Linked DNA regions of Homo sapiens: regions 1, 2, 3 and 5 are each linked to region 4. The links come from fine-mapping of genetic effects on gene expression. A gene starts in region 4. Each other region holds a variant in brackets. All regions are shown on one strand. Distances are from middle to middle.

Evidence for each region.
Region 1: its variant is fine-mapped to the expression of CRYZ in unexposed skin (GTEx, PIP above 0.99).
Region 2: its variant is fine-mapped to the expression of CRYZ in prefrontal cortex (GTEx, PIP 0.98).
Region 3: its variant is fine-mapped to the expression of CRYZ in lung (GTEx, PIP 0.91).
Region 5: its variant is fine-mapped to the expression of CRYZ in spleen (GTEx, PIP 0.97).

What each region holds. Positions count from the first base shown.
Region 1 is chr1:74,765,255-74,772,064 of GRCh38, forward strand. It overlaps TYW3 (tRNA-yW synthesizing protein 3 homolog), which reads left to right. Exons shown (of 6, transcript NM_138467.3): 6 at 1-1,423. Among named protein-coding and RNA genes, the nearest start is that of TYW3, 36 kb to the left of the region's middle. The variant T/A (reference allele first, on the strand shown) is at 3,924.
Region 2 is chr1:75,559,026-75,565,835 of GRCh38, forward strand. All of the region lies in intron 1 of SLC44A5 (solute carrier family 44 member 5), which reads right to left. Among named protein-coding and RNA genes, the nearest start is that of SLC44A5, 49 kb to the right of the region's middle. The variant G/A (reference allele first, on the strand shown) is at 2,930.
Region 3 is chr1:74,704,503-74,711,107 of GRCh38, forward strand. CRYZ (crystallin zeta) reads right to left here. Exons shown (of 9, transcript NM_001889.4): 6 at 5,596-5,745; 7 at 2,601-2,702; 8 at 2,397-2,492; 9 at 984-1,955. The coding sequence ends at 1,794. Among named protein-coding and RNA genes, the nearest start is that of CRYZ, 25 kb to the right of the region's middle. The variant A/G (reference allele first, on the strand shown) is at 3,698.
Region 4 is chr1:74,730,213-74,736,128 of GRCh38, forward strand. CRYZ (crystallin zeta) reads right to left here and starts at 2,838. Exons shown (of 9, transcript NM_001889.4): 1 at 2,744-2,838. TYW3 (tRNA-yW synthesizing protein 3 homolog) reads left to right here and starts at 2,940. Exons shown (of 6, transcript NM_138467.3): 1 at 2,940-3,206. The coding sequence starts at 3,033. RefSeq lists enhancers at 1,635-1,924, 2,520-3,230, 2,785-3,074, 3,455-3,554.
Region 5 is chr1:74,239,443-74,246,252 of GRCh38, forward strand. All of the region lies in intron 4 of FPGT-TNNI3K (FPGT-TNNI3K readthrough), which reads left to right. All of the region lies in intron 2 of TNNI3K (TNNI3 interacting kinase), which reads left to right. Among named protein-coding and RNA genes, the nearest start is that of TNNI3K, 7.5 kb to the left of the region's middle. RefSeq lists an enhancer at 5,772-6,423. The variant CTAACTA/C (reference allele first, on the strand shown) is at 3,729.

The sequences.
Region 1 (6,810 bases), 35 kb after region 4:
AGATGTTGCAGTGTACCTGTGCCAGGGATTTCATGTGTACACTTTATAGGAGAATAAGCAAGAGCTTAGGTAAGTTATAGTCCTTACCATTGGGTCTAAGGCAGTTTCCAGGAAAGCATGGCAACTCGTTCAGCTATGTAAGTTGAACTCTGTACCACTTGGGAGGGAACATTCCCCTAGATGACAATGTCAGTGGCACTCGAAGTTGTGCAGTGCACATTCTTATCTACCAACATATACAGCAGTCCTTCTGGGAAGGAAATTTGGGCAGGAAAGGGAACTCACAGTGTCGGAATGCCTGGAGCATTTCTTCTAGTCTGGTGGACAGAATATGAAAGTATCTGCCTGGCAGTGCAGTAAATGAAAAGAGAAGATAAATGAATAAAAAAAAAAGTTATAAATAACAGTAGGAAAGAGAGAGTGCAGGTGGAACGAGCCTATCCTGTGGTGAAATGACAACACATTCTGCAGTTTTAAAATCTAAGAGGCTCATTGACTTTTCTTCATTCATTTAAATTGATCTCCAAGAAAACTATGTATTTTAAAGATTCCATAAACTGAATATATGAATGAGAATTAAGAAGAGAGGGGCTGCTTCCTAATCTGTTTATATAAGGTATAGTATAGTATAATCTGTTTATATAAGGTTAGTAGAGAGGAGACACCAGGTGCTGGCCATAAACCTAAGAAGACATTGAATCCCATTCACTCCTTAACATTCCTTAATATACATTCATGAGCTACATAACATTTTAATCATCAATGATGGACCATATACCATATACGATATGGTGGCCCCATAAGATTATAATGGACCTGAAAAATTCCTATTGCTAGTGATGTGGTCATTGTAAAGCTGTAGCACAACACATTACCCACGTTTGTGGTGACAGTCATATAAAAGTATGGTACATATAATTATGTACAGTGCATACATAATACTTGATAATATGTTACTGGTTTGTGTCTTTGCTATGCTTTTTATCATTATTTTAGGGTATACTACTTAAAATGTTAACTGTAAAACAGCTTCTGACAGGTCCTTCAGGAAGTACTCCAGAAGAAGGCATTGTTATCATAGAAGGTGACAGCTTCATGTGTGTTATTGCCCCTGAAGACCTTCCAGTGGTACAAGATGTGGAGGAGGAAGACAGTGATACTGAGGATTCTGACCCTGTGTAGGCTTAGGCTAATGTGTGTGTTTATATCTTAGTTTTTCACAAAAAGGTTTTTCCAATGTTAAAAAAAATATATAAAAAAGCTTATAGAATAAGGATATAAAGAAATATTTTGTACAGCTGTACAATAAGCTAAGCATTATTACCAAAGAGTCAAAAAGTTTTAAGAAATTAAAGTTTATAAACCAAATGTTCATTGTGAGCCAAGGTTAATTTATTGAAGAAATAAAACATTTTTAATGAAATTTTGTGTAGTCTTAGTGTCCAGTGTTTATAAAGTTTATACAGTAATACGTTTATACAGAACATCCTAGGCCTTCACATTCACTCACCACTCAGTGACTCACCCAGAGCAACTTCCAGTACTGCAAGCTCCATTCATGGTATGTGCCCTGCACAGATGTGCTATTTTTCACCTGTTATACTATATCTTAATTGTACCTTTTCTATGTTTAGATATGTTTAAATACATAAATACTTATCATTGTGTTACAATTGCCTACAGTAGTCAGCACACTAACATGCTGTACGGGTTTGTACCCTAGAAGCAATAGGCTCCACCATGTAGGCCCAGTAGTGATGTTTGCGTGACTAAATCACCTTACAACCCATTTCTCAGAACATGTTTCTATTGTTAAACAACACACAACTATTTTATTTATGTGTTTTATTTATGCCTGATCACCAATATCAATAACTGAAACACAGCAGTTTAGTAATAATTTAATACACACCATAACCTGCCTATTGAGAATGGCATTATATTTGTTTTCATTGTAGTGGCTCCATCCAAAATAAAATGATTTTTTTCCTTCCTTCAGGATGAAGGCAAGCATTTATTCCTACGGTCTGGATTCCTCATATCACCTACAAGTTAACTGCTTTTGTGTTCTAAAAGAGAGAGGAAAAATGAAGTCAACCTTATTGAAAAACAAGGAGGGAAACTAAGGAACATGCTTTTGCTTTTGAGGTTCTAGGCCAGAAGTCATAAGCTGTAACTTGTCCAAGTTATGGCCAAGCAGATATGTTTTGTTTGGCCCACATGGAGTATATTTTTTCTAATTGAATCAACATTTTAAAATATGATGATTTAATATTTAAAACTATAAAGCGCATCTCTAGTTTGTTTTGTGTGTGTTTTTTTAATTGGAAGATCTGGCTGGAGCCGTCTCACATTCCCACAGGACAACACTTAGCCGTTCAAGTACTAGCTCCTCCTTTTGGATAAGACTTGTTTTCCTATTCACCCCAGACCCAGCACCCCCTACTGGTTCCCTGACACAACTGCTTCAATCATTTACACATTGTTTGGTCCCTGTGGGCACCAGCATTGGCAAACTTTGGTTAGATCTTTGGGGAGAATTAAAGTCTATTATTATGTTAGTATATTATATAATAAATAAGAGATGGGAGCAGGATCAGCTATATAATTTTCAAAGGACAGTGCAAAATGAAAATGTGGGACCCTTAAAAAAGGTTTAAGAATTACAAGATGGCAACAGCGGAGCACTAAATCACGTACAGGTACATCTAAGCACGGGGCCCTATGCAAGCTGCACAGGTTGCACATACGTGAGGCTTGGTGCTTTAAGGGAAATGGGTGCCTTCCCACTCAACTGGGTGTTTAACCCTCCTCCCCACATTGAGAAAGAGGCAGAGTGCTGCAGATTCTGTGATGTGCCAGGACTTGACTCCTGCTCACATGTGGCGCCCTTGGGTTCCAGGACAATGGGTAGCTGTTTGGAAGCCTGCAAGGGTGGATGTTTTGGAAGCTAGGGCAAAGATCTCAGTGGCTACCCTTAGATGGAGTAAACCGTAGTCCTTTTCAGAGCCACTTGATTTCAAATGTGAGCAAAGGCAGTGATGAGCACCACGTTTTGAAAACAAGGGCTTTCTCCATTTTGAGATGAGTTATATGATTTGCTGGGTTAAGTGTTGAAGAGCCATGAAAAATGATCACCATCTTTATTCTTATAGATGGCTCCTTGAGCAGGCTTTAATTTGACTGGAGTTGCGGGGAGTAAATATTACACTCCCATATAAGGTGTATAATAGTGACTATTTTTTAGTTATGATTTTTGGCTTTTAAAAATGGGCTTTGACCTTCAAGCCTCTTCTTTCCATACTCTACTGGGCTTCTGTCAACATTCACGCTTCTCTAATGCAATAGGATTTTAATATTCACAAATGCTAATGTTTTTAAACTTAACAGTCCTTTAATGTCCTGGGTTTTTATGCATTCTATTCTTGCCAAGCAAGAATTTATGAGCCCTTTTTGGTTTTGCCTTTAATGTGGTTGAATTTAAACTATAACTTTAACTCATTGCAAATTTTATTTATTTATTCATCTATTTTAATAACATTTTTTGGAACAGTTTTAGGTTTACAGAAAAATTGAGAGAAAAAGTTCAGATAGTTCCCATGTACCCACTTCATCTGCCCACACATGATATCCTTTATCTTATATATCCTACATCTTACATTAGTGTGGGACTTTTTGTTACAATTGATAAGCCAAGATTGATGTTTCTTGACTAAAATCCATATTTCATGCCTCTCTTCATCTCTCTTCAATTCTGTTCTCTCCTGTAACTATTAGTCTATTAGTCCTATATTATACCTACTTATGGGCCTATTCTCCATATTGTCTAATCTTTTCATCCCCCTTCACCAGCTTCTCTTCATCTCTATGTGTGTCATTCTGTGTCATTCACTCGGGTTATTGTTTAGTTAACTCATACCCTC[T/A]TCAACTGTGTCTAATCTACTGCCTAGATAGTCCATTGAGTTTTACATTTCAAAGATTATATTTAATTATTTCTAGTTCTTTTTGGTTCATTTTCAAATCAGAGGCAGATTATTTAAAGGTTCTAATAATTATTTCTTTCTATATACCTTTTCCCAGATATTTCAATAAATTATATTTACACAAACCTTTCATACACTTGTATATTATAGAAATGATCTATGTTCTTTAGCTATTCCAAGGATAATTGAAAAGAATGTCCTCACCACCACCAAATCTAAACCATGCAAGAAGAAAGTGAACTATTTCTCAATAACCAGATTGTTTACATGCCATTTTTATTATTTATTCATTTACATGACAAATATTTTTTGAGCACCCACTATATGTCAGTCACATGCAACAGGACAAGGACTCTGCCTTCATAGAGCTTTCCTTCTAGTAACATTATTAAAGATTTTGTTTGTATTGGCACTTGCCTAGGATCTTTAGTGCTCTTTAAATTTTACTCATCAATCAGGGCTCAGCTCAAATGTTAACTCTTTTGAGAAGCTTTCCTAAAAGCTCATTTCATAATTAACTTCTTACATTCCTGTTTTTCCATAGCACTTTCCCAGTACTATATATACATAGCATTTTGTTTATACTTACATAACCACACAAACCAAGAAATCTCTTGGTAGCTATTAATTGCATACATATATATCTATCCATCACCACCATCATATTAAACTTTGACTAACTGAGGGACAAAGCTGTTTTTCCAATATTTTTATATCCCCAGCATCTTGGACGTTGTTGTTTTTTTAACAACTACTTTCTATTCTGGTTTATAAATGCATTGTAGCTGGGAGAGTTCATGAGTATTATGTAATTCATTATTTTATAAGCAAATGACAAAATCCCTAACCAAATTATATTACTATTCAATTCTTGAAGGAATCTTGAAATTGATAAAGTTAAATGACTGAAGTTAAAAAAAAGATGCTTAGAAGCCACTAAACACATGCATAATACTATTCTTTATATCTCACAAAATATCCAAATTTCCAGATGTTAGTATTCCAAGATATACCTTGTGACTAAACATGATAGGTCTTGTCTTTCTTTTTTCACACCAAGCCTTTTGAAAGCCTTTTTATTTTGAAATAACTTCAGATCTACAAATAAGTTATAATAGCACTAAGAATTCCTGAATATACTTTACCCAGAGTGACCATTCTCTCTCTCTCTCTCATATACAGACATACAGTACATATGAATAATCTCATATAAATATACAAACTTTTGAGAGTAAGTTAAATATATTTTACTCTTCACTCTTAAATATTTCAATGTATATTTCTTTAGAACCAGGAAAGTCTCATATAATCTCAGAAAAATTATAAAATCAGGAAATCTAACAGTTATACAACATAATTATATAATCTGCAAAACTTATCCAAATGTCATCATTTGTCCCAATGATATTCTTTGTAGGATAAACTGAATTGCATTTTGTTTCATATTTCTTTAATCTTGTTTAATAGTACATAATTGGTTATAAGCCTCTGCCTTTGATAACATTGACAGGCTTGAAGAATACAGGAAAATTTAATAGCCATCGATTTATATTTTTAATATTCATTTTTAACTAGGTTCAAACTATGCATTTGGAGCAAGAATATTATATAAGTGATGTGTTCTTGTCAAAGCATGACTTCAGTGGGTACAGGATTTCAGTTTGTCCCATTATTGGTTATGTTAACTTTGATCTCTTGGCTAATGTGGTGTCTGCTAGGTTTAATGGTAATTTTCCCTTTTGTAATTAATAAGAAATTTTAAGGATGCTCTACTTTGAGAATATGTAAATAACCTATTTTTATCCAACTTTTACCCACTAATTTCAGCATCTGTTGATTATTCCTCTCCAAATAAGTTATTACTATGATTGCAAAATAATGATTTGTTACCTCCATTATTCCTTCTACATTTATTAATTGGCATTCAACTTTAAAAGACAGCTTTGCTTTCACACACTCTCCCCACATATGAACTCATGGATTCTTGTTTGATTCAAAAGGTTATAATCCATTGCTATCATTATTTATTTTAATGTTCATATTATTCCAGATTTGACCAGTGGGAGTCCATTCAAGTTGACCCCTGTCTACTTTTAACGTATCTCTTTCAGTGTTTGAGCATCTCCTCATTATCTTGCACAAGGAGGCCTTCCAGGCTCATCTTGTACATTCATCTCCCCCAGTCATAGAATCAGCCAAAGAACCCCAATTCGTTTCGGTGGGGACTGGCATTTAGAAACAAAGTTCCTAAGCAATAAGTGTGTTCATGACAGCATTTTCTCTTTTTAAATTACAGAATTATTCATCAGTCTATAATAATCAGTAAATAATCATTATTCAAAGGTTAGATCTTATAGTTTACATCGTCCATGAGATGTGTTGACAGAAATGACATATAAAACTGTCTACTAAGTTCATTTCTCTGTGATATAGCAGCGGGAATGTTCATATTAATATACTGAAATACTGTCTCATTATATTCATTTAATGAATTTTTTTATTCCTCAGCTTTTCATATCAACTCCCACCTATTTTCTGTGACATCATAAGACTTAAATAAACTGTCCTTAACTCTTTGGAGAAAATAACTTTGCAGAGATCAAGAAATATTGGCTAATTTCATTATACTTAACAATTGCCAATAAATTATTCAAACCTGTTTATCTTTGTGGCTAATTTTTAATGATGCTTTGAAATGAGGCAAAAGCAAATGTATAAGTCATGTAGACTAACCAGTCTCTCCTACAGCCACTGTCTCCCACAGCAATAGGCATATTGTCAAATTGAAGTTTAATTCATAGGTTCTATGAAACGGTGGGTAAAGAAG
Region 2 (6,810 bases), 830 kb after region 4:
ACTAAGAAAAGTCTTATTAACATGAAACCATGAAACAATAAGAGTATATATTCTTAAAGTGTTAAGTGGAAATGTACAAACTATTAGAAACTACAGTTTGTATATCTATATATACACATATGGAAATGATATATATGTAATTGTTAAAGTACTTTATATATATATATAAACAGTTCCTAATAGGTACTCAGTGTCTGGCTCAGTCAAGCGTAATAGGAAATCATGATGAGCAGTAAAGGAAAAAGAAGCAGAACTGGAATAGGGTGTTAAATGATTTACAGAATACAAACAAGAGGAAAGCAGAACAGCCTAAATGCTAGGAACTGCACAAGCAAAAGCACAGATCTGGAAATGCACCATGACTGAGGGAATTGGCTGGGACATAAAAAGGAAAGCTCTGGCTATCATGGTCAGTTAGCACCAAATATTGGATCTGATAATATCGGATAGTTCACTTGGAAGCACTGAGTAGTATATTGAGAACTTTGCATTTCACCTAGTGAGCAACAGGCAAAGGCAGTATCTGAACTGGGATGACATTTCATTCAAGATTTTTATATGCACTGTTCACAGTACAGAGTATATGCTTCTTGCATACACATTCAAATGTTTATCACATGACATCAAAAGCATAAGCAACAAAAGAAAAACTATATAACTTGGACTTCACTAAAAATTTTTAAATTTTGTGCTCCAAATGATACAATCCGAAAAGTGAAAAGACAACCCATAGAATGTGAGAAAATACTTGCAAGTCATATATCTAAAAAGAGACTTGTATCCAGAATATATAAAGAAGTTTATAACTTGACAATAAAAAAGACAAATAGCCAAGTAAAACATGGGCAAAGGATTGGAAGAGACATTTATCCAAAGAATATATACACATGGCCAATAGCACATGCATAGATGTTTATCATTAGTCATTGGAGAAATGCAAGTCAAAAACCACACTGAGATATCACTTTACAGCCACTGGAATGGCTATAATCAAAAAGATTTAGGCAGTAACAACTGTTGGTAAGGATGTGAAGAAATTGGAACCCTCATACATTGCTGATGGGGATGTAATGTGATTCAGACATTTTGGAAAGCAGTTTCACAGTTTCTCAAAAAGGTAGAACTACCATATGATACAACAATTCCACTCCTAAGTATATACCCAAGAGAAATGAAAATATATATCCATAGAAAAACTTGTACAAATATGTTTGTAGCTACGTTAACAATAGATGTACTGTGGAAATAACCCAATGTCCATCAAGAAATGAATGAAAAACAAAATGTGGTATATTTTCATACAATGGAATAATATTTAGCCACTAAAAGTCTGAATAAAGTATCCAAAATAGGCAAACCTATAGAGACAGAAAGTAGATAAGTGGTTGTCTAGGATTGGCAGGAGGTTGGAGGAATGGAGAGTGACTGCTAATGAGTTTTGGGTTTCTTTTAGGGGAGACAAAATCTTCTAAAATTATATTCTGGTGATAGTTGCACAACTCTGTGAATATCATAAAAGAAAAATGAAATTGGACACTGTAAATAGTTGACTGGTATAGCATGGGAATTATATAAAGCAGTTTTTACAAAAGTACACTTTAAAAATTGCCTGGTTTCTAATTGTCCCAGTAAAGTTTTGTCTGTGGCAGATTTGGTCCTTTGCCTCCCTGTGCCCCAAGACTCAGCCAGTGCCTCCAGAGATGGAAGAAGCTCAGTTTCTACTCACTGAAACAGGCTTGTCCCTGAAAAAGATGTTTATTAATCACCTATTACGAATCACCTACTATATCTGCAAATCAGTTGACATTTTACTCAGATTTCTAATTTAGTTACCTTTTAAAGGTATGTTTTCAGTATATACCAATAAATACCAATAAATACATTAACTATGTTGATAACAAATTATGTACCTCATCCTATTTAGCTACATCTGATGTAAAAGTCCTAATAATAAGGTTAAAAACTACCTCTGATTAAAACTACTTCTCGCCAAGACTCCCATTCATGTGTCCACAGGGTAATTCAACACTTTGCCAGCTATTTAGTTGTGGCTTCTTAAAGGAAACAAGATGTCAGTCTCTATTTTCATGGATCACTTTTATCTGAAATCTTTTCTCTGCATGATACAAATTTACTAGAATCATAATCTGTCCTTTGTAATATGTCAAAAAGTGGAGAAATCAATTATGTGTAATTATACATGGAGTCTCCCAGTATACTTTCAGAGCTTATTATTAGTAAATTTCATGACAAAAGAAGGACAAGAATAGAAATATTTCATTACAAAGAAACGAGGATAAGGTAGTTGTTTTTTCAAATTACTCTTACCCTGACTTTTTTTCATAGTATTTAATACCCACTGGCATACTTTACATGCATTTGTCATTTTACTTTTATTATTGTCTGTCTCTTCCCAGAGGAGTACAAGTACTATGAGGAAAGGAACTTTGGTATTTTTCACTCCTATGTCACTAACACCTATAACATTCAATACTGTAGGTCCTCAATATTTCAATATCATAGGTATTCAATAAACACTGAATGCATTTAACATTTAGGAAGCATTGGAAGAGTCCTACAATTGCTGGCTGAATAAAATTAAAAGGAAAATAAAATGCTTTTACATTTTAACTATTTTATCTCACAAAATCTCTCCAACATCCTGATAACCCTATCTCTACTGTTTGCAGAATAAGAGTTGGCATTTTCAACTTGGTCAGCAAACATGTTTGAGGTTATCATTCACTGTTAAACTATGGTTATTTTAAATTCATTGTGTATTATTATTGTAATTTACCATAGAGTGACAGTTATAATCTGATTTGCATTGGAATAAGCAAAATGAGAAAATTTTATTTGAAGATGCAGTTGTACTTTTTATCAAGCCATCATTAATGTAATATTTTTTGTTATAAGAACACAATTTTGG[G/A]AGGGAGGGAGGAGGTAAAGGAGAAGAAAAGATAACTATTGGGTTCTGGGCTTAATACTTTGGTGATAAAATAATATGTACAAAAAAAATCCTGTGACACATGTATACTTATGTAACAAACTTTCACATGTATCTCCAAACCTGAAATAAAAGTTAAAAAATAAATTTAAAAAATTAAAAGAAACACAATTTTAGGATATTTTGATAAAATTTTGATGAACTCCTTCTTGGAGGTAGTCATATAAGAAATACTAGTATTTCCCAGATTTTTTATTATTTGAATTTTTTTCTACCCCAGATCCATCAGCACTCCTCTATGGAAAATGTTTTTAATTCTTAGACTTCTTTCATTTTGTTTTTAGAAATAAACCCAAAAACTATATCACCAGGTTTTCTACAATTTTCTTATTATTTTTGTAAGTGAGAATTTTAAAGAAATTGCTAAGATAATATAATTTTTAGGCCAGGTGCAGTGGTTTACACCTGTAATCATACCACTTTGGGAGGCTGAGGTAGGCAGATCGTTTGAGCCCAGGAGTTCAAGGCCAGCCTGGGCAACATGGAGAACCCCTATCTCTATAAGAGTTACAAAAATTAGCCGAGTATGGTGACCTGCACCTGTACTCCTAGCTACTCGGGGGGAGGATTGCTTAAGCCCGGAGATGGAGTCTGCAGTGAGACATGATGGCTCCACCGCACTTCAGCCCAGGTAACAGAGTGAGACGACTCTGTCACAAAAAAATATATATAATTTTCGTCTCTTAAGTCTTGAGTAATTTTTCCTTAATCCTTACCTTATGCCAATTCAGGATCTGTATCCTCTCACAGTCTCTCTTTCAAATGGGTGATCACTTATCTTTCTTAGTGGTCTATTATTTTTTGCTCCTATACTCTGTTCTAGCTGTCATGATACCATAGTAATCCTCAATATGTGAAACAACTCAAGAAACAGTTCAAGGAAAAACACTGACATTTTTACAAAAACACTTGTATATTACACTTCAAAAGTTTTGGTCTGCTTGAGGTTAGTTTGTGTTTCTTTCAGCTACTGAAATGTTTCTTACCTTTTCTCTTTGATACGCAATCATTACATTCTGTGGATTTTAAATATAGATTACATATATCTTAATATCATCATAATGTAGTTTTATACAAGAACTCTTTATAAAAGTATGGATATAAAAGAATCCCTCCTTTGGTAGGAAAATAAAAGAATTTGGGATGTAAATTGAGTTTCACAGAAAATCTCAAGAATAGTTTTGTTTTAGTGGGAAATGTAAAACTAAATTAAGCAGTTACAGAGATTAACAGCTCAGGACCCATTTCCTTACTAGCATATTAACACTGAAGAAAAGTATCAGAAGATGATGAAAAGATAAGGGTAGATATTTTTTTTTCAAATGAGTAAATGTGTCACACCTAAACAAGAAAGGGTCTTATTCAGAAACCATTCTGTAAAACATGTACTTTGTCTGCTCTACATACTCTGCATGCCAAAATCTTGGCTGAAATTTTCTACTGTATCATCCCAGTTGAGATATTATATTTAATGCCATTTAGAAAAATTATTTTTACATATTATTTTTAAATAATAGTAAAAAAATTCAGAATGACTAAATGAATACCTTAAAATAAATTATACAGATAGCTAAACAAATAATTTAGAACATGGTTTTCTATACTGTTCTAGAGGAACTTACAAGTCTCCTATAAAAGACAAGCCAAGACCGTGGTCTTGGTATCAAATGTAAATGAAATTGTTATATTTATAAGACCGCATTATCCTAAACCACATAATAAGTGCAAATAACATAGTTGTTCTATTGCATTATATATTGAGGCATTTGACTCCATCAGTTTTCAAACAGGTGTCTGAAAATCACACAAAAAGCTTATGATTTCCAGCTCTGTCTTAAAGCAAATCGTAAGAACTGTCTTCAAAAAGTTATATTGGAAAAGATTCATATTAGCAATAGAGAATATAGGGTAAAAACTGAATTATACTGTTGAAATTTAAAATCTGTAGCCTCTAGCATGTAGGAAAAAAGAAAAAAGAAAACTGGTGTATTACCCCTCTCTACATATTTAGATGGTGACAATTCTTGCCATCAATGACATCAAAACACATTTTCACCAAATACATCAGAACACTGTACAAATACACACTGGCTCCTTGTCACAAGTTGCAATATGCTGATCAATATCAAATGGGCTAGACTGACCTGTGAAAACAAAAACTACTGTAATCTACTGTGCTAAACCCAAAGAAGCAGTTTACAGGAAAATTAGAATTGTTTCTTCATTGGGAGAATTAATTTCAAATTAAGCATTCTTAATTTATGTCGAAGTGATCCACTGGGGTAAAGAAAGAGCAAATTTGATTTTCAAGCATTAACATCACTATCAAAAGCTTATCAATTTGGGTATCATGATTTTGAGAATGAATCACCTTCCTCTCATAAGTCCCCCAAAAGGATTTTTTTTGCAATCGTTTTTATTTTTCTACTCAGAGAAAAGCTTTGTAATTAATTTTACATAATCACCAAATAGAATGAATAATCTGGCTCTTTACCTGAGAAGTTAGGACCCATGATCTTTAACTCCATGGCTTCTGCAACCCTGATTTATTTATTTACTTTTTTTTTAATTTTTATTTATTTATTTATTTATTTATTTATTTTTCGAGATGGAGTCTCACTCTGTCGCCCAGGCTGGAGTGCAGTGGCACCATATCGGCTCACTGCAAGCTCAGCCTCCTGGGCTCACGCCATTCTCCTGTCTAAGCCTCCCAAGTAGCTGGGACTACAGGTGACCGCCACCACCAGGCCCAGCTAATTTTTTGTATTTTTAGCAGAGATGGGGTTTCCCCGTGTTAGCCAGGATGGTCTCGATCTCCTGACCTCATGATCCACCCACCTCGGCCTCCCAAAATGCTGGGATTACAGGCGTGAGCCACTGCGCCCGGCCTATTTTTATTTTTATTTTTAAGTCCTGGGGTACATGTGCAGGATGTGCAGGTTTGTTACACAGATAAACATGTGCCATGGTAGAATTTTAATATCTGCAAATGACCTAGAACCATTAATGTTGAGAATCAGAAAATAAATGATTAGAAATAATCTATAAGTTGTTGACCATTACAAACATTTATCTGAAGTCTCTTCCCCAGGTTAAACATTAATGAGGTTGCCTGCCCCAAAACCATCACTATGCCAGCCTACTTTTCCCGACCATAACTGGTGAAGGAGTCTTCAATCTATTTTCATCGGAATATTCTCACATTAAATTATGCTGAAAACAAAAGCATTCGCCTTATTGGAAGGATGCAAAACACTGATTAGTTCATCCTCAAAATGTTTAACAAGATCTCAGCAGGAGACAAAGAGAAGTCTAGAGAGAACAATCAAGCTCTTGGTAAAACGAAAAATTCAGCTAGCCTCACAAAACTGCCACTAATGCACAAAGTTATAACAGCAGCAGTTAATTATGGCCAATGCTGTATCCTCACGTATGGTAACAAAATTTATAACTAAAATGTATCTATATCAGAGTCTTTTGTAGAAGTGGGATAATTCTGTAAAGGGGTCCTTGGCAGAACTATTCTTCTAAATGGCCATAGCCATTTCCATTTTTGCCACACATATTTCTTTCTCCTTCACTCCAGGCAGTAATGTAGAACAGGTGAGCAGTCTTTGGTATCAGAGCCAGGTTCAAGTCCTAGTTTTTCACTTACTCATTTTGCAAATCATTTTACCTCTGATCCTCAATTCCCTTCTCTCTAAAATGAGGGTAATAATTCCTGCCTCCAGGAGCCATTATGAGAATTAAATAGTACAATTTATGCAAAGTGTCTGACACTGAAAAGCTACCAAATAAATACA
Region 3 (6,605 bases), 25 kb before region 4:
GGCTCAGGGTGCTGACCAATTTGGTCTCTAATACATTACATGACTAGGTCACACAAGTCAAAGCAACCAGGAACAGAAATCCAAAAGACTGAGTTAAACAATGTTTGTTTATTATACAGGTTATTCTCTACTTTTCATCAAGAATGGGCACTGAAGACTATGTAGTAGCCCTAAGGCCACAGGCACCAACCAAGTAGTGAATGCAGTTGGCTGAAAGTTGGGACAAGACTAAAACCACAGAGATTTATGCAGAGAACATACCCAGTGCTACATCATAAATATGGTAGTTAATGCACACAGTTTGGCTAGTTTTGGCTTCAAAATTAATTAAACTGTATCAATGTATTTTGAAGTGTTAAGTCATCTGTATGCTTTAGCTCCTTCTATAGATGAGGCAAATATACAAACAGATTAAACTGACTTTTACAGAATAATTATTCTTTTACCTTGTTTACATGGAAAGGAATCCTCCATTTTAGGATGCACATAAAATGCCAGCCTATGTTGATGACATTGCCTTAACACTTTTTTTTTAAGTAATTTTACAGGGTAGTTAACCTGTAAAAGAAACAGTGGATAAACTTGAAAATGCTAATAGCAAAAAACACTTCAGCCATGGCACATACAACCAGAAGCCAATGATATCCTTCAACTATAGAAATTAGCGGTGTTTTCTGTTTATTCCTGAAGCAGGATTCCATATTCAAGCCAGAAATTGTCATTCAACAGAAAAAATCAGGTCAAAACAATCAATCACATAATGTAGCAAGACAAAAGTATGTGCTTATGTGAAGAAAAACAAAAACAACAAATAACCGAACTTTTATTTTCTTGAATATAATATTGATGGCAAGATTGCTAAGAGGTCATCCCTGTATTTAGTTTAGATAAAGGCTTCCAGCATAGAACACTGTTAAGAAGTAACTGTCAGGAGCTATGCAGAAGTGATGAGAGGCAAATAATATAAAAACTAGAAAAGCAGGTTTTAATTTTCTATAGACTTTATTACACATTATTATGTTACGAGACAAATGCAGATAATTCTTAATTTATCAAATTTGTGAGCTTAATTAACAAAAATATTTGACCCTCACCAGAAAAACAGATAACTCTAAATCTACTCTGAAAATCTAATCAATTGCGAAGTATTACCTATTTGGAGACTATGTATTATATCAAAGATAAAGCTACTATTCTCACAGAACATATGGGGTCATTGGCAGCCAACCAATAATGAAGTAAATATTCTAATATTTGGGAAAATACTGAGAAAACTAATAAATTGTCCTGGATATTATTTATTCTTGCCTTTACAAAAGACTTACACATCCAAATGAGATTAGTTTAGAATAGAGGTTTTTAGTTCAGAAAATGTTCAAAGTCCAATACAGTCATGGCTAATCAGAGACTAGAGAACCTTTATAAAGGTAAGTAGGCTTGAAAACCCTTGGAAACTGAGCAGTCTTATTTTGAACTAGCATGTTTTAATCAAAGGTATGGAATTAATCAAATATCAATTAAGAATTACTGGAATGCACACTCATGCCAAATGACAACTAACATGTTATTTCCTACTATGATGACTCTTTGATTTGAGACAGATGGCATAAAAAAATATTGCTAGCTATACAATAAATTTTACTCTTCTGCTTCTGCTCTCTAAAGAAAAATCTTATTTTTTCACATAAGAAGCTCATGGAATCGAATGTTAATTAAAGAAAAGATAGGGTAAGTACAACTGGGGGAAAGACAGTACCTCTAATTACATAGGAAATCCATGAAAGAATTAATCATCATAAGAGAAGAATCATTTTTCCAGTAGCCCCACTACCATGAATGATATTTTCATGAGCCTCGGCCACCTTCTCCAATGGATATTGAGAACCTATCACAGGTTTCAACCAGCCAATTTCCATTCCAGCTTGAAGGGCTGCTGCATATTGCTGAAATTCCTCCTAAGAAAAGGAAAAACAAATTTCTTTTTGTAGTGAACCGTATGATTTAATTTTCAGAAGCATTAAAAACACTTCAGAATCTAAGTGTTATACCATGAAGAGTCTCTTACAAATGTGTGACTTTTGTCAACTTGTCCAGAACTATAGAAAAAGTAGTTATCTACAGGGTAACCATAAATCCCATCTGCCTGAGACAGTGTTAGTGTACAAAATACCTGTTGTCCTGAAATTATTACTAGTATCACATTTCTATCTCAAAAGGTATGCTTACCTGGATATAAATTATACTGTCACCCTAGTTGTCCTTCTGGTGACTAATCCTTACCAACTCCCACTAGTCATATAACTAAGTTTAACATCTATTCAAACTTTCAGCTTGCCTGAGTAGGCAAACTGTACCAATGTTTAAGTTACCAAAATCAGAAGTACTTCTTTTCCTACCTTGGTTGAGGAAAAGAGAGTAACTCCAATTATACTCGACTCCTTTGCCATGGTGTCTCGTGGGTTTATTTCAATAGTACCTCTGCTGCCAACAACCTAACATGAAAAACAGCAATTCTACAGTTAAAGATTACTGTAAAATAGTGTTAAATTGTGGTAAAACATTAAAGTGGTAAAAAAAAAAAAAAGAAAAGGAATACTTACTATCACTCGTCCTCCATGTGACAGAAGACTCAAGTCTTTACTAAGATTTACATTAGCTAACATTTCAATAATTATATCAATTCCTTTCTCACCAACATACTTCTATATAATAAAAGAGAAATGTAGAGTAAGATAGCAAGTGAAAAACTGTAAAATAGCTACTATCTGTACAAGATATTATAGAAATATGTTTCAAATGATATATAAATGCTACATCTTTGAGACTAATAATGCAAAATTTTAAATAATCTAATTATATAATCACGATGTAATTCCAAGGTACCAGCCAGAACATCTAAACTGATAAAAATTTGTACTAAATACATTGCTGTAGTGAAATAAAGTTTGTCTGGAATTTTCAGGTGCTAGACTCAACTTGAGTATAAAATACTTAGCTGAAAATTTTCTATCTGTAAAATAAACTTTCATAAAGAAACAATAAATCAAAAGCCCCAAACCCCCAGGGGGCTCCCATTTTTATTAATAAACAAAAAGCAAAAGAAGATATCATTAGCTGTTCGGTTTTGCATGATTTTTGTTGTTTTAGTGCATTTGGTTTTGTTCTAAATGGTTTATCATCTGTTTGATGCACTAACTCTTTTGGGCTCTTGGATGTTGGACGCTGGCTCTTACAAAAAGCTACACACATCTACATTATATTCATTTTATTTTAACACACACACACAAATGAATCCCTGTGCCCGGGATTGCACTAGGTACCAGGAATACAAATACAAACATAGGGAGCTCAAAACAAAACTAGTGAGAAAGATGGGAAATACTACAGTCATAGCTATAAAGTAATGGGCTAAGTAACACATTAGCAGAAATAAATCATAGAATACAGAGAAAAAAGGTTAAGGTTTGATTGCCTGCCATGGTCAGATAAAGTTCCACAGAGACGATGAACTGGGCCCTCAGGGATGAATAGGAGTTTCCCAAGCCAAAAGAAAGGAAAATGAGTAAGGGGAAGCTAGACCTGAGGCTGAGTCAGTCTGGACCAAAGAAACAGAAAAGCAAAGATGGAGGGGACTGAGAACACAAGGATTGAAATACAAGAGGAACTGAAGTACATAATCAGGTAAGGGGGAGTGGCA[A/G]GGAGAGGAAGAGGTAGGAGAGAGGAGACTGTAAGTTGGGACAGATAGTGAAAACACAGTGAATGCCATATTAAAGGATTTGGATTGTGTGGGGTTTTTTTTGTAGTTGTTTTGTTTTGTTTTTTTATTACAGGGGTTTATTACTGCATGTGCAAGTGCAGTAGGGAACAGAGAGACAAAACTCCTCTCCTCATAAAGCTTCCATTTTATTTATTTCTGGAGATCTTTTTTAAGAGGGAGATGACAGCATAGATAAAAGGGTGTATTAGCTCAGTTATGAATAACAGTCAAGGCTGGAGAAACTGAGGCCTAAACTAAGTTATGGTGGTCAGTGGAATAGAGATAAGGAAATACATTTGAAAGGCATGTCAGAGATGAAACTGATAAAATGAGGTAACCAACTTGCTGGGTGGGAGGGAGAATGATAATTAAAAGACAGGAAAAACAAACAAAATGAGGGTTTCTGTCTTGGGCGACCAGATGAGTAGCAATGTCTAGCGGGTTGATGGCATGAAGGAAGTGAACTCAGGCCAAAGACAGTTTTGGAAATCAACAGTATATGGGTAGTAAGGGAGCCACAAGAGTATATGAGACTGATCAGGATGAAAGTCTAGCACCAGGGAAGATGAGAGACCAAGCAAAAACAACCTAAGGAATATTAATATTAAATAATATGAAGAGGGCGGAGATTGAAAGTGAAAAGTCAGGAAAGTAAGAAGAGAACCTGTTTCAAAGAAATGTGGTCAGGGTCATATGCTCCTGAAAAATCAAACAAGATGAAGACTGAAAGAAGACCAGCAGACTGTTAATTAGGAGCTTCTCAGTGACCTCTGGGAAGCAGTATAAATACTTGGGCTATAAGCAAAACTGCAGTGAGAAGTGGTGGAAGGTAAGGAAGTAAAAGCAATAAATACTACTTTTTCAAGAAGTTTTGTGGGAAAGAGGAGAAGAGAAAGGGGAGTAAGATAAAGGTTAAGAGAATGTTTTTGAGAATGGGAGAGACTTAAGCAGAAGGAGTCAGTGGAAGCTCCCAAGACCTCATGGTCTTAAAATTAGATTATTGCTGAACAAAAACCATACTCTTAAAATAACGGGCCATTTTTCATCTTTGTGAATATTCTTGGATAATGGTATCAGCAGTGCTAGATCTTAGGTTCCCCAGACGTATAACAAAGGAGTGCTTTTGTTCGGCTTTTTGGCAAGATGATTGCAAAAAAGGTAATAAACTCTCACTCTTATTTTTTCCTTCATTTGTAATGATCTAATTTACACAGTACTCAATATTTGGGAAATTCTAATCTCCCTAACGTGAGGAAGTGGTTGAGGATTAGCAAAGCAATAAGTGTTTAGCAAATTGCTAATATAGTACAAGTGAAGAACTTCAGAATCTGCTTGAATTCTGTTAAATGCAGCAACTAAATAAATGCCACCTCACCATTTTGGATGCAGTAGTGATTATTCCTCCAAAGCATCCAGCTAACAAATGAACTTTATTCCCTGGGCCACACAGATCCAGTTTGTAATTTACAGATATCTCACCTTCCATGGAGAATTCACATCAGTAGAAATTATATTAAGAATACCTCACAGCTGCAAATACAAAGCTGCAGCTTTACTTAGAATGTTATTTGCATTAAAAAATCAATTTTTATAGCTATAAGATTCTAGAGAAGCTATATTCTATTTAATACACATAAACAATACAAAAATGATAGTAAAAGTTTAAAACTTAGACATCTGTTTTTTAAATAAAGTTTTAAAACACGCATAAAAATTCATCGCACTGAAAAAAGGAAGCAAACAGCTTTAAAGGAGTAGTTGGTTAAAAACATATTAAAAAACCACGCAAGTCTCCAAGGAACAAAGTTTGACTTTTGTAAAACAGTGGAAAATTTTACCTTAATTTTATCAATGTAATTCACTTCTCTGTGATTGAACACTTCATGGGCTCCATTTTGCAAAACAATCTTTTGTCCTTCCTCAGTACCAGCAGTGCCCAAAATCTTTAAGCCATAAGCTCTAGCAATTTGGCATGCTGCTAATCCAACCTGAAAAACAAATATAACCCAAGAGTTATATATTCTCTACACTCCTGTAAACACTTAAATACATACAATGAACTTAAGATTCCTATAGGACCCACCCTAACTTTAAGGAACTTAAGAGTGTAAATGAAGAAATAAGAAAAACAGCTAACTTTAATTGAGCATTTAAAATATTCCAGGAACCATACTAAATAATTTCTACATATTGTTTTATTCTATCCTCACAATGACCCTATAAAGTAGATACTATTATTGTCCCTATTGTACAGATAAGAAAGTTGAAGCTTCAAATTATAAGTAATTTGGCCAAGTCATATGCGGAGATGGAAACAGGAGTTAGACCAGTCTGACTGCAGAACTTGAGTTTTTAACCACTGCATCAAGATGTTTGCAGGGTTTAAAGATGATCAGAACATGCTCTCTGACTTCTTTGTGCATATGAAATTCTAAATAACAAATGTAAGGCCTCCACCATTTAAGTAGAAGAGATAGGTATATGGGCAAATTAACTAATTCATCCATATGGTGAATGTTTATAGAGTGTTTACGATGTGCTAGACATGGTACTTAATGTAAGAAATAAACTTATATTCTAAGGGTGGAGGAAGATAATAGTCATATGAATGAATAAAATAAATTCAGGAAATAAAAGTGCTAAGAAAAAATAAGACTGGCTGTTGGGTTAAAGAGACAGGAATAGGGGCTATTTAGGTCATCAGGAAGAGCCACTCTGAAAAAATGAGACCTGAAAAAAGTGAGGAACAAGCCACGAGAACATCCGGTCAGCCACGTGGAGGATGCTGTGGGCATAGTGAATGGCCATGGCTAACCTGGCGAGGTGGGAATGCAGTTGGGGTCAAAGA
Region 4 (5,916 bases):
TGCTTTGCCCAGTACTATCTGACTACATTATCCTATCAGGCTTGAAAGTGATGGGGCATGGCCTGACCACACTATCTCCTACTTTGCTTCTGTTGATCTTATCTCCCACTGAGCCTTTAGCATTCTGATTCATCAGGCTCCAACCTGCACTCATTGCCTTTGAACTCACCTATCCACGGGATCATCATATGCTTCATAACGATGAAGCCTGTCAAAGGAGATTACACAAAGAATAAAATAACGTGGCATACTGATGGCAAATAGGATAATACTTAAAATCCTGTAATACCGGATTTCTTCTAAAAAGCATAAGTCTTCCACCTCCATTGACTTAACTGTTTTCAGAACAGGTAGAGAAGTTATTTAAACTATTATTTTATGCAGAAGTAAAAATAAAATCGCCATCCATTTTATGGATGAGAAAACATCACAAGAGGTTAAGAGACTTGGTCAGGGTCACACAGAAGCAAAGCTAGAACCCAAGTCCTGTAATTAAATGGTGTTAGCTGATTTTTTTCTTTACCATCCTTTTCATCTCACCCTTTGAGATGCTGGCATATAAGACCCTTTACTTCGTAGAAATAAACTTTACAATAGTGATAGTGAGACAGATTGAGCTAGAAAATGTGAAATCAAACTAACCTGCAGGTAGAATCGCATATTTTATGACTAAGGCATCTGCTTAGAGTTTGAAATTTCTCAAATGCCCACTAAGTCAGGGAATGCAGCAGAAATACAAAGGACATGATTCTATTTTTAAAAATGTATAAAAAAAAATTACTCCCTAGCATCGGATCCTTGTGAACAGGACAGGCCTTTCCATTGCTTGTGCTTTTTAATTAAACTATACTTCAAATAGGCCTTCCTGTTTATCAAATATAAACTTTTAAAAATTAAGAGTCCCTTGGTTTAATTTTTGGTTTAATTTTACCTCTGAAAGGTTGCCAATATGCCTTACAAATCTAGGAAATAGAAAATCTAAAATCCCTCTTCCAACAGTGATCTTTTTCCTGGCTATGCTTGTATCCATTTGATTTAAACGAAAATTAAAGGAATTGGGAAAATGTTAGGAGTATATTTTAACATAGGATGAACAGATCAAGTCACAAAGCCAGAGCAAAGGAACATTATGAGACAAGAGCAAAAGTAAAATTAAATAAGAATTCTGGCAAGAATTTTAAAAACTGAAAACTTAGAAAAAAAATCAATCATTACAAATTGTTCTGCTGCTAATACACAATGACTCATGTAAGCATATGGTTTATTATTAACCCAGAAATGTAAAAAAGGCAAGAATTACAAGTGGTCAGAGAAAGTCTCTTCCTGGCTGTGTGATCTTATCAGGTCACTTCTGTTCACTTGAGATAGGACGGGGTAAGAAGAGGGGAGGAGTTTAATAATTTCGGACTCCTCCAGGTTCCATGATCGTATGGAACAGGGCAGTCTGTTCCCTAATGCTGGAGGAGTAGAGCTTGGAGAGATTTGCTGCTGAACTCGCTGCGCTAACCAGACACGTAATCACAGTGGCTTCAGAGGGACTCGCACAACAATTTCCATTAGCTACGGACAAGCATTCCAAACTTTAGCCTTTAGGTTTAATCATTGACACACCTTCCCTGGTCACTGAGTCTCCTCTAGAAACTCAGTATAAACATCCAACGATGTGTTAACAGGGTGTTTTGTAATTTTCTTTTGAAGATTATTCTAGGTGGTGGGCGTCACAGGGTCAATAAAACTATACATTTCTCTCAAAGACTGCAATCCTGATGGCAAAGCTGGAGGAAGCTCCGGGAAACCTGTAATTGTGGGAATCCAAGACAAAAAATCCCCCACAGCTGGGCTGTGGGAAGGGGCCCTACCTAGGAGAAGAAATCAAATCCCCTACAGCTGGGCTGTGCGAAGGGGCACTACCTAGGAGAAGAAATCCCCTACAGCTGGGCTGTGGGAAGGAGCCCTACCTAGGAGAAATCCCCTACAGCTGACAGGTGGGCTGTGGGAAGGGGCCCTACCTAGGAGAAGAAATCAAATCCCCTACAGCTGGGCTGTGCGAAGGGGCACTACCTAGGAGAAGAAATCCCCCACAGCTGGGCTGTGGGAAGGAGCCCTACCTAGGAGAAATCCCCTACAGCTGACAGGTGGGCTGTGGGAAGGGGCCCTACCTAGGAGAAGAAATCAAATCCCTACAGCTGGGCTGTGCGAAGGGGCCCTACCTAGGAGAAGAAATCCCCTACAGCTGGGCTGTGGGAAGGGGCCCTACCTAGGACAAATCCTCTACAGCTGAGAGCTGGGCTGTGGGAAGGGGCCCTGGACAGACCGCTGGGCGCTGCTGCAGGAATCCCCAAACCCAGGCACTGGCTGCAGGGAAAAATCAAGCGGGTGACTGGCGGGGGGGGGGGGGGGGGGTGCAGCGTGGGGCTGGGGGACAGGGAGTGCGGGGGGCGGAGGCTGGGCAGGGGTAGTGCCAACGGACACCTCATGGTGTGGTAGCCTAAACTCAGAGCCTAAACGCAGGACCAGGGCTAGGAGCCCAGGACCAGAAGGCAAAACTTCCTACCTGATTTATGGATGGGAACTTGCAGCCCCTGGAGGGGAATGGCTTCGGTCTGGAGCTCTACGCACTAGTTCTCTGGGAGGACAGAGGGCAGGAAAGGGGTGCAGCCAAAATCAAACTCGGTTCCACTTGGACGAGCAGTGGGGAGATTCGCTGTCTAAACAACTAAGGAGAGTTTTTAAAACCACTTACCAGAATCTAGAGTGGGAATTAAAATCTGCGTGGGCTTCTTCAGATTCCACAGAAATGAGGACTGCCACACCTTCTCCAACTTTTGCAGGCTCCACCCAGGATGTGCGCCTCGCTCCACCCAGGATGTGCGCCTCTCTCCACCCCTAGGCGAAGGCACTAGAATTTCCCAAATTAAGAACGAAGAGGAAGTTTGGACCTTTTCGGCCACCGCTCGCTTCAATATGGCTGCCCCCAGGGAGAGACGAGGCTACCATGAAGGAGCCGAGCGCAGACCCTGAGTCCGTCACCCATGGATCGCAGCGCGGAGTTCAGGAAATGGAAGGCGCAATGTTTGAGCAAAGCGGACCTCAGCCGGAAGGGCAGTGTTGACGAGGATGTGGTAGAGCTTGTGCAGTTTCTGAACATGCGAGATCAGTTTTTCACCACCAGCTCCTGCGCTGGCCGCATCCTACTCCTTGACCGGGTGAGGCCCCTTTGCGCCTGTCCATCGCCTGCCTTCTAGTGCGAAACTTCAGGAGCCCTGTTCCCATCCAGTGACGACCGGATCCAGCATGTCTGTGTTTGCTCCTCTGAGGGGTGGTCTCTGTTTCTTTATATGTGAAATTTAGGGGATTAGATCAGTGCTTCTAAAAGTTTAACGTGGCTATTAATCAGCTGAGCATCTTTTAAAATACAGATCCCGATTCTTTAAGTGTAGGGTAGGGCCTGATACTGTGCATTTCTAACAAGTGCCCAAATGATGTTGAAACTGCTGACCTGGGAACTATCTTGTGTGGCAAAGTTTAGAAAATTTGATTTTATTATATGAATACTAAGGGAATCTAAAGACTTTGTAGCTTGCTAAGGTATTGAATGCCGGAATCCGCTCATCAACAGCTCTGGCAAATCATTGTTACTGCATGCTTGAACATCACCAGTGTTAAGGAGTTTACTGCCTCCTAGTGAGCCCCTCCATTATTACAACTCTAGTAGTTTTACGCAGAGAAAAGTACGATCGTATATAATTTAGGATGGTTAGACTTTTTTTTTTAACTTTATGATGGGTTTACAGGGGTAGTAAATGCATTTTGACTTACATTTTCCACTTATGACGGATTTATTGGGATGTAACCCCATCATAAATCAAGAAGCAGCTGTACAAGCCATACCTCCTTATTTGCAGGTTCAGTTACCCCAGTCAACAGCAGTCTGAAAATATTAAATGAAAATTCCAGAAATAAACAATTAGTAAGTTTTAAATTGCATGCTGTTCTGAGTAGCGTGATAAAATCTTGAGCCAACCAGCTCCTTCCAGAATGGAAGGTGAATCATCCCTTTGTCCAGAATATTCCACTATATATTCTTGCTGCCCTTTAGCTGCTTGGTAGCCTTCTGGGTTATCAGATCGACTGTGGTGGTATCACAGTGCTTGTGTTCAAGTAACTCTTATTTTACTTAATAATGGCCCCAAAGTACGGGAGTAATGATGCTGGCGATTTGGATCTGCCAACAGTAAGTTTTAAAGTGCTTTTTTGAAGTGAAAAGGTGAAAGTTCTTAAGGAAAGACTTAAGGAAAGAAAAAACAGCATATGCTGAGGTTGCTAAGATCTACGGAAAGAATGAATCTTGTCAGTGAAATTGTGAAGTGAAGAAGGAAAAAGAAATTGATCTGAGGTTTCAGGCATCCACTAGGGGGTCTTGGGACATATCCCCTGAGGATAAGGCTGCTTGGGAGTGATACTGCTTAGATTAAAAACCACGGGCTATGTGACCTTAGGAAAGCTATCTCAACTCTGCCCCTTCCTGTTCTATGAACTGAGGATAATAAAAAGTATCTGCTTTATAGGGATTTTGTGTGGAGAAAATAGGATAATTTTTTTTGAAATATTTGGCTTTGTGCCTGGCCCATGCACTGTAAAAGTTGGCTGTGTACTGATTTTATTCGTAGTATTGGCTTAAGAGCATGGAAGACAGCACATTGTTAGGCTCATTCTTTAGGTCCATTATTGACTGATCATTTATTTGCTGATCTCTCAAGTTAGCAGGGCCTGTTCATTTTTAAATCACTTCCATCACCTTCAGAGCAATGGCATTCTTGCCCACAAACTCTCTCTTGCCCCATTTCCATAACTCTGTCTCGCCTTGATTTTTGCAATGGTTCTCTAACAAGCCACTTAACTATTCTTCTCCAAACCATGTTTGACAAATTGCAACTCTGCTTATCTCTCACCTATGCTATGTTTTATTACACATTTTTCTACATCAGAAAATCCAAATGCTTACTCTAGTATACCTTTCAACCTTTTTTTCATTGCTTTTCTTCATCTTTAGCTAGTTACTGAAACTAAACTGTTCTTTTCATCTTGTATTTACTTGCTTTTGCTCATGTTTTTTGGCGGTTTTTTTCCTGAAATGTTTTCCTATCTCTGCATATCTGAGACATGATTCCCAAAACTCCCCTCTCCCACCTGAACCCACAAACACATACTACCTACTTGGAAGTAATGACTGCTTCTGTACTGGTTAGACTTTTATTTCTTATCTTACACCTCGTATTATGGTTTATTTTAAAATCTGCCTTATTTCAGTAAGGATTTGGGGCAACTTACAAACAGGCAACACAAGAAAAAATAAAAAGTGGGAAAATCTGGATAAAGAAAATATAGATAAGATGAAGCCAGCGATGGCATTAGTTGCCAATCCCACCACTAGATCCTGTAAAGTTGCTAGAAGTGGGCCATACATTTGGCTCTAAGATTCAGAGTAGCCAGCACAATGTCAGATACGTAAGTCACCATCACCGAAGTCATACAATGAAGTCAAAATATTTATTTAGGACATGCATAGCAATTCCCGGTTCCAAGGGCAGACAGCAGAGTCTCTTGTGGATCCATCGTATAAATTATAGTTACTTTGAGTATAGTGATTTCTGTTCATGTGGTTTCCTGCATCCCCTTTCCAGTGTCCTTGAGGGGTAGGTTCTGTGTATACCCAAAGTACCTAATAGAACTTTGCAAATAAACATTTGTTCAATTTAAGTTAATATTAAAATGTTTGCCTTCATGAAACTTTGACCTTTCAGTCTTAGCTCCATCCTTCAGGACTACATCTAAAGTCTAATTCAGAGGTCACAAATTTATGCCTCTAGAGACCAAGGAAGTATTATAAATGTGTAAACGGCATAGGTGACAATA
Region 5 (6,810 bases), 490 kb before region 4:
TTAGAATCTCATTACTCACCCTTATTCATTTGTCTTATAAAGAGCATTCCTGTGATAAACAATTATGTTATGTTGCCTGACATCAGCCTTTCTCTAAACATTTAGATAGCAAGGAGACTGTATACAATGCCCAAAAAGGAACATTTAAACTAGCATGAAACGTAAAGGATCACTGATGTAAACAGTTTTTCATTTGCTAACCAATTTCTTTATGGCATTCCCGGTAGATGCTAATTTCATTCATTATAAGAGATTTTTCACCACATAATACACCATTGCTCTATCAGCTCGAATACACAATCTTCCTGGCATAGCTTTTACCCACAACATAATAAACAGCAATATAGTGCTAAATGTAAGACAGAAAGAGCTAAATAGTTATCCTGCTTATGCCAATTTATAGCAGCTTTGGAATGGGAGCTTGATGTGGGAGAGAGGGGAAATGGAAATGGAATGTTCTTTCATCTTCTGCTATAAAGTTGCATTCACTCATAACTTTGGACATTTGTTTAGGTAATGGATTGGTGACAGGAAGAAATGAAGAAAAAGAGAAGGCAGGAGGAGAAAGAAAGACAGAAAGGGCACCTTAGAGTACCATTGTCTGATTATATCCTCCTCTGTGCTGCCTCTAATCTTTATCAACATAACAGCACTTACTACATGGTGTTGTTTTTATCCATTTATAGGTCTATCTCCCCACTAGTATATGTGTTCATTAAAGGCAGCTTTTTTTCTTATTTAGCCTTATTTATATTTGTACTTATTTGTAAAACAAACTAATAACTTAGGGCTTACCATATGCCAGAAATGCTTCTACGTATCTTTTTGTGCATCAGCTTATATAATCCTAATGGTGTATATGTAAAGTGCTTTAGCACAGTGTCTGGCACATGGCAAACCCTCAAAAATGTTAGTTAACACTTAATCATTATTGTTTATGTTAACAACCCTCTGAAGTAAGTGTTGCAATTGCCATGTTATACCTGGAGAAAATGAGGCTAATCAAATTAAACTGGCTTGAACTAGATTAAACAATTTGTATGATTTACCTAGGATTGCATCCATCTTTATTTGATTTCAAAATGTATCATATTCATAATCTTGGTTATGAATATTATACAACCTTTTTGAAAAAACTATGGAAGTGATGGCTCTCCACATGTGACTTCAAATGTTTTCAATTAAATTATTTTGTTTCAATAGTTTTTATCATAATAAATTTTAAGACTATGTTTTGCTAATTTCATTGTCAAGCCAAATTTGTATCTGCTTAATCTATAATATGAAATTTAAAACCATGAGAATACTCCAGAAAAGTTATAATTTTTCTTTTTCTTTTTCTTTTTTTTTTTATTATACTTTAAGTTTTAGGGTACATGTGCACAACATGCAGGTTAGTTACATATGTATACATGTGCCATGTTGGTGTGCTGCACCCATTAACTCGTCATTTAACATTAGGTATATCTCCTAATGCTATCCCTCCCCCTCCCCACACCCCACAACAGGCCCCCGTGTGTGATGTTCCCCTTCCTGTGTCCATGTACTCAATTCCCACCTGTGAGTGAGGACATGCGGTGTTTGGTTTTTTGTCCTTGCAATAGTTTGCTGAGAATGATGGTTTCCAGCTTCAACCATGTCCCTACAAAGGACATGAAGTCATCATTTTTTATGGCTGCATAGTATTCCATGGTGTATATGTGCCACATTTTCTTAATCCAGTCTATCATTGTTGGACATTTGGGTTGGTGCTTAGTTCCAAGTCTTTGCTATTGTGAATAGTGCTGCAATAAACATACATGTGCATGTGACTTTATAGCAGCATGTTTTATAATCCTTTGGGTATATACCCAGTAATGGGATGGCTGAGTCAAATGGTATTTCTAGTTCTAGATCCCTGAGGAATCATCACACTGACTTCCACAATGGTTGAACTAGTTTACAGTCCCACCAATGGTGTAAAAGTGTTCCTATTTCTTCACATCCTCTCCAGCACCTGTTGTTTCCTGACTTTTTAATGACTGCCATTCTAACTGGTGTGAGATGGTATCTCATTGTGGTTTTGATTTGCATTTCTCTGATGGCCAGTGATGATGAGCATTTTTTCATGTGTCTTTTGGCTGCATAAATGTCTTCTTTTGAGAAGTATCTGTTCATATCCTTTGCCCACTTGTTGATGGGGTTGTTTTTTTCTTGTAAATTTGTTTGAGTTCATTGTAGATTCTAGATATTAGCCCTTTGTCAGATGAGTAGATTGCAAAAATTTTCTCCCATTCTGTAGGTTGCCTGTTCACTCTGATGGTAGTTTGTTTTGCTGTGCAGAAGCTCTTTAGTTTAATTAGATCCCATTTGTCAATTTTGGCTTTTGTTGCCATTGCTTTTGGTGTTTTAGACATGAAGTTCTTTTCCTTTTTTTTTTTTTTTTCAGACGGAGTCTCGCTCTGTCGCCCAGGCTGGAGTGCAGTGGCGCGATCTAGGCTCACTGCAAGCTCCGCCTCCTGGATTCACGCCATTCTCCTGCCTCAGCCTCCCAAGTAGCTGGGACTACAGGCACCCACCACCACACCTGGCTAATTTTTTGTATTTTTAGTAGAGACGGGGTTTCACTGTGTTAGCCAGGATGGTCTCGATCTCCTGACCTCGTGATCTGCCCACCTTGGCCTCCCAAAGTGCTGGGATTACAAGCATGAGCCACCGCGCCTGACCCAGAAAAGTTGTAATTTTTAAACACTATGACATCAACATAATCCAAAACAACTTTTTTGGCATTGAGTAGATACATCTTGGTCAGTAATTACAGTGCCTCACTTTAAAATTGACTAGGTTTAATTATGTACAAAAAAGTGGTCAAAAGAATGCTCTGTTCCATTAAATAGTCACAATGTATAGAGGAAATAAAAAAATGTTTTCTGAGATACACCTTTTTGTACCTTTTCTCTCTGAAAAGTTCATCTGAGGCCTGTTGCATTCCACTATACTCATCCTTAAAACAAAATATCTTCTAAAATTATTGCACTATAGCCAACTATGAAATTTGGCTATTATAAGATGAATAGCACTGGAAACTTTTCAAGCTGATCTTATTTAAGAGGAGTAGACCCTTTCTGTCAAACTACTAAGTAGGATATTGAAGGGGAAATGTCATCTTATAATTAACATAGAATGAAAATATTATTTGGCATGTTTGGTAGTGTGTTTTGCCAATTAGCCACAAAACAAAAAATAAGAATCGTCAACAACAAAAAAAACCCTCAAATCCAAAAGGAAACAAAGAATTCATAATGCCCTAAGTCAGTCTATTTCTCTAATTCTTTTCTTGTTTGTCCAGGTAAAACTAGTTAAGAACCATAATTTTACAGGAATATCTTGTGAAATCATTGAGAAGCAACTTGACCTCAATCTCTCTCTGCCTCTCTCTCTCTATCTCTCCCTATTGTTCTCCCTCTCCTTCTCCATCTGTAGCTCGCTATCTTTCTATCATTTTCTCTCCCCCTTACCCTTCATCTCTTCTTCTTTTCCATCCTGTACCTCCATGATTCCTTCTTTCCTATCCCTGTTTTGAAGAGCAAAACAATACAAAAACAGTAAAAATAATATCAATGCCTTAATAGAAATAACTATTATAGCAGCTAATATTTATAAAAGCTTTACAAGCTCTAACTTATTTACACTTCACAACAATCTTATAAGATAACAATAATTATGCCAATTTTATCATATCTGTCACT[CTAACTA/C]TAATTGTTTATTGTATGAATGGCTGAATAAATGAATATACTTCACAGTATTAGTTTGCAGATTTTATTTGCAAGATATCAAACAAATATATTTCTGGATATTTCTTGGAGATATATATTAGAAACAGATCTTATTGATATAGTCTGCTTCTATTGTTTGGAGGGCATGGGGCAGGGAAGAATCTGCAATGAATAGGCAAGAAGTTGCAACTAGCCATTTGAAACTTAAATGATCAATTTGGGAAACTAGACAACCCATAAAAAATCCTTACCTTCTTTCTACATTCTTGGCTTTTCCCTAAGTTTTAACCAATGAATTAGCTTTAAAATATATCTACCTGTCTGAATACCTTGGAGAGCAGTGTGTTACTTTTTGGCCAACTGTTCAAATGTTACATTTTAATAAGTTCCCACTTGTGGTCATGTTAGATATCTTCTTGAAAGGATGAGGTCATGAAAAAGAAGTTTAATTGGATCACAAAACTGCACACTTTTCTAGGTCAAAGGTAAAGGCTAGGAAAAGAATTCATTATGCTACAAGAAAGAAAGTAACCTTTGGGTACAGAACTATCATTTTTAATGATTAAGAACAGCATTTACTATTAGAAATATATTCATAATAGTGGCTTTATTTTAATTAGGAACTTCATTCATGCCCCAGCATGCACTATGAACTCTTTAGGATATGTTAAGTTACAGTGTGGCATGGCAGGTGATGAAAAATGTAAGGGGAAATTAAAAAATAAATTGAGCTTAGGGTATTAGAATACATAAGTGATGCTCAATTGGCAGTGAATTTGACATACACAGTTACTTTAGAAGAGGCAAAAGAAGAGAAAATGGAATTTCTCTCCTAGGAATGATTGCTTAAATATCTTGAATATTTTAATTACATGTTTCAAAACAGAAACGTTTGACTAGAAGTTAATGGGAAGTGAGAATTAGGATTCAAATATAGCCCCCAAAGTAACTCTCATTTTAAAAATGTACATTCCAGTTATTAAAGTTGAGCTAAAAATTGTACTATTAAAAATCACACTTGACTGCCAAATATTATAGGAGTCTATTCTCTGTTGATTCATTTTGTTGACATTAAGAGAAGCTGCATGAGTTCAAGGAGGATATAATTCAAGAGGAGAACAAAAGCAACAAGCAGCGGCTCAGTTTAAAGCAAGGAACTCTTTAGGACTCTATACTGAGTCACTTATAGATGGTAAAGTCTAGTTCAAGATTCAGTTAGCTGAGGAACAATTGTTGAATAAAGAGTCATTAATTTTGCTTTCAATTTTATTTATGTAAATGATAAACATTCATCTAGTGCCTTTCTTTTTTAAAAATAAAGCAATGGACCCTGGCATCTTGTATTTTCTGTTTATTCCATGTTCATTTGTTTTGCAAAGCTGATCAGAGTATTAGATATCAGGACGAACACAGCAGTCAATTTCAGGATTTTATCTAGTATGTGTATTTCCAGGACTGATGCATTCAAAGGATCCGGGATTTAGTGAGTAGTTTATATCAAGGAGACTCTTGAAAACAACCTGAAGTGAGCCTTAAGAGCAGAAGTGAGGCGTATAGTAGGTGTTTAGCAGGTGTTGTGCCAGACTTATTGAATGGATCATCAAATTTAGATCACAGAATAAGAAAGCAATTGAGTTTACCCTCTCAAATAAAGTGATTTTCATCTCAACTTTAACTTTTTACCCTCCTTTGCATTTTTCATTCTTTGAGTCTCTCCACTGTTGAAAATGTAGTAATATTAAAAGTTCGAGAGATCAAGTTTAAATAAGAGAATCTCATGTGCAGTTCTGTGTTCTATGTATAATTTAAACTTTTCAGAGCACCATGATGAATAAAAATTATGTATACATAGAAAACAGACATCTGAAAGTAAACTCATTTCACTCACACACAAAATCTCACATAATATCTACGGAGAAATTCAGGAAAATCCTTCCAAAAAGAAAGGTGGGGGGAAGTAGCATCTGATAAGATATTGGAAAAAAGAATATAATCCCAATGTATTACAACTTCTGCCTGAAGCAAAGTTCTCTTGTACTCTGACTGGGTCAGATTTCACAGATAAAGGTCTAAACTCTGGTAGGGTACTCTGATATAGTCCCTGGTGAGAAGTGGAGTGATTCTATTAATGAAATCCTTGTCTTTGTCTGAACAAAGACCATTGCCCCAGGAGGGCCCTTGAGAGCCACAGGTAGCCTTTCAAAAGGAATGTAAAGCTAAAATTCTCGACCTCTTGAGGTCCACGGTGCTCCCAGGACATTTTTCAGTAGAAATGAGATCATATCCTTGGCTTCACAGGTCAATTTCAAGCTGCCTCCTGCCTATTTAAATCTCTAGCAGCTTTAGAGAGATAGCATAGTATTTGGTGAGTGAGCCAAAGTTTCATATCACTTGTAAAGTACTTACACTTGAAAGGTACTATAAATTCAGAACATTATCATCAAGGCATCCAGTTAAGAACATCAAAAGCTATTGGAATTTTAAAATAGAAAAAGAAAAAGTGCTATTCTCCAGGGTACTGCTAAAAAGAGAAAGGCTCTAAATCCAGGGTCATTGAAGAACCTCAGTGAAATGCTTTAATTAGAAATGGCAAGCCTTGTGGTTTATTTTCACAGCCATGGGAATGCAGTATTCCCAAACTTTTTTTACCCTCCTACCCTTCTTGCTTTCTGTGTTCCCCTGCAGCAAAACACATAGACATGCTTACTAATACTGGGAAACACACCTCAACTTGCTTTGGAAAGCCTTTTGTGGAAGTACAATAAACTCCAGTGTTTATAAATGTTAATAATATAAGAAGGGGGTTCAGAATTTCATGAAGATAGTTAAGAATTTAACTCACTTCTATCAGCAATTTCCCTCAGCTCAAAAAATACTGCAATCAAAATCATTTCTGATGAAAATGCCACTGTTTTAAATGTCTACTTATAATAAAATGAGCCTACTTATAAATGATAGAGCTATTTATGGTATGGCAGTAACTTCACAAAATAACATGATTCTTAGAAATGTGTGGTCTTTGGCCCAGCCTGGCTTTTAAACCCTCAAAGCCAAA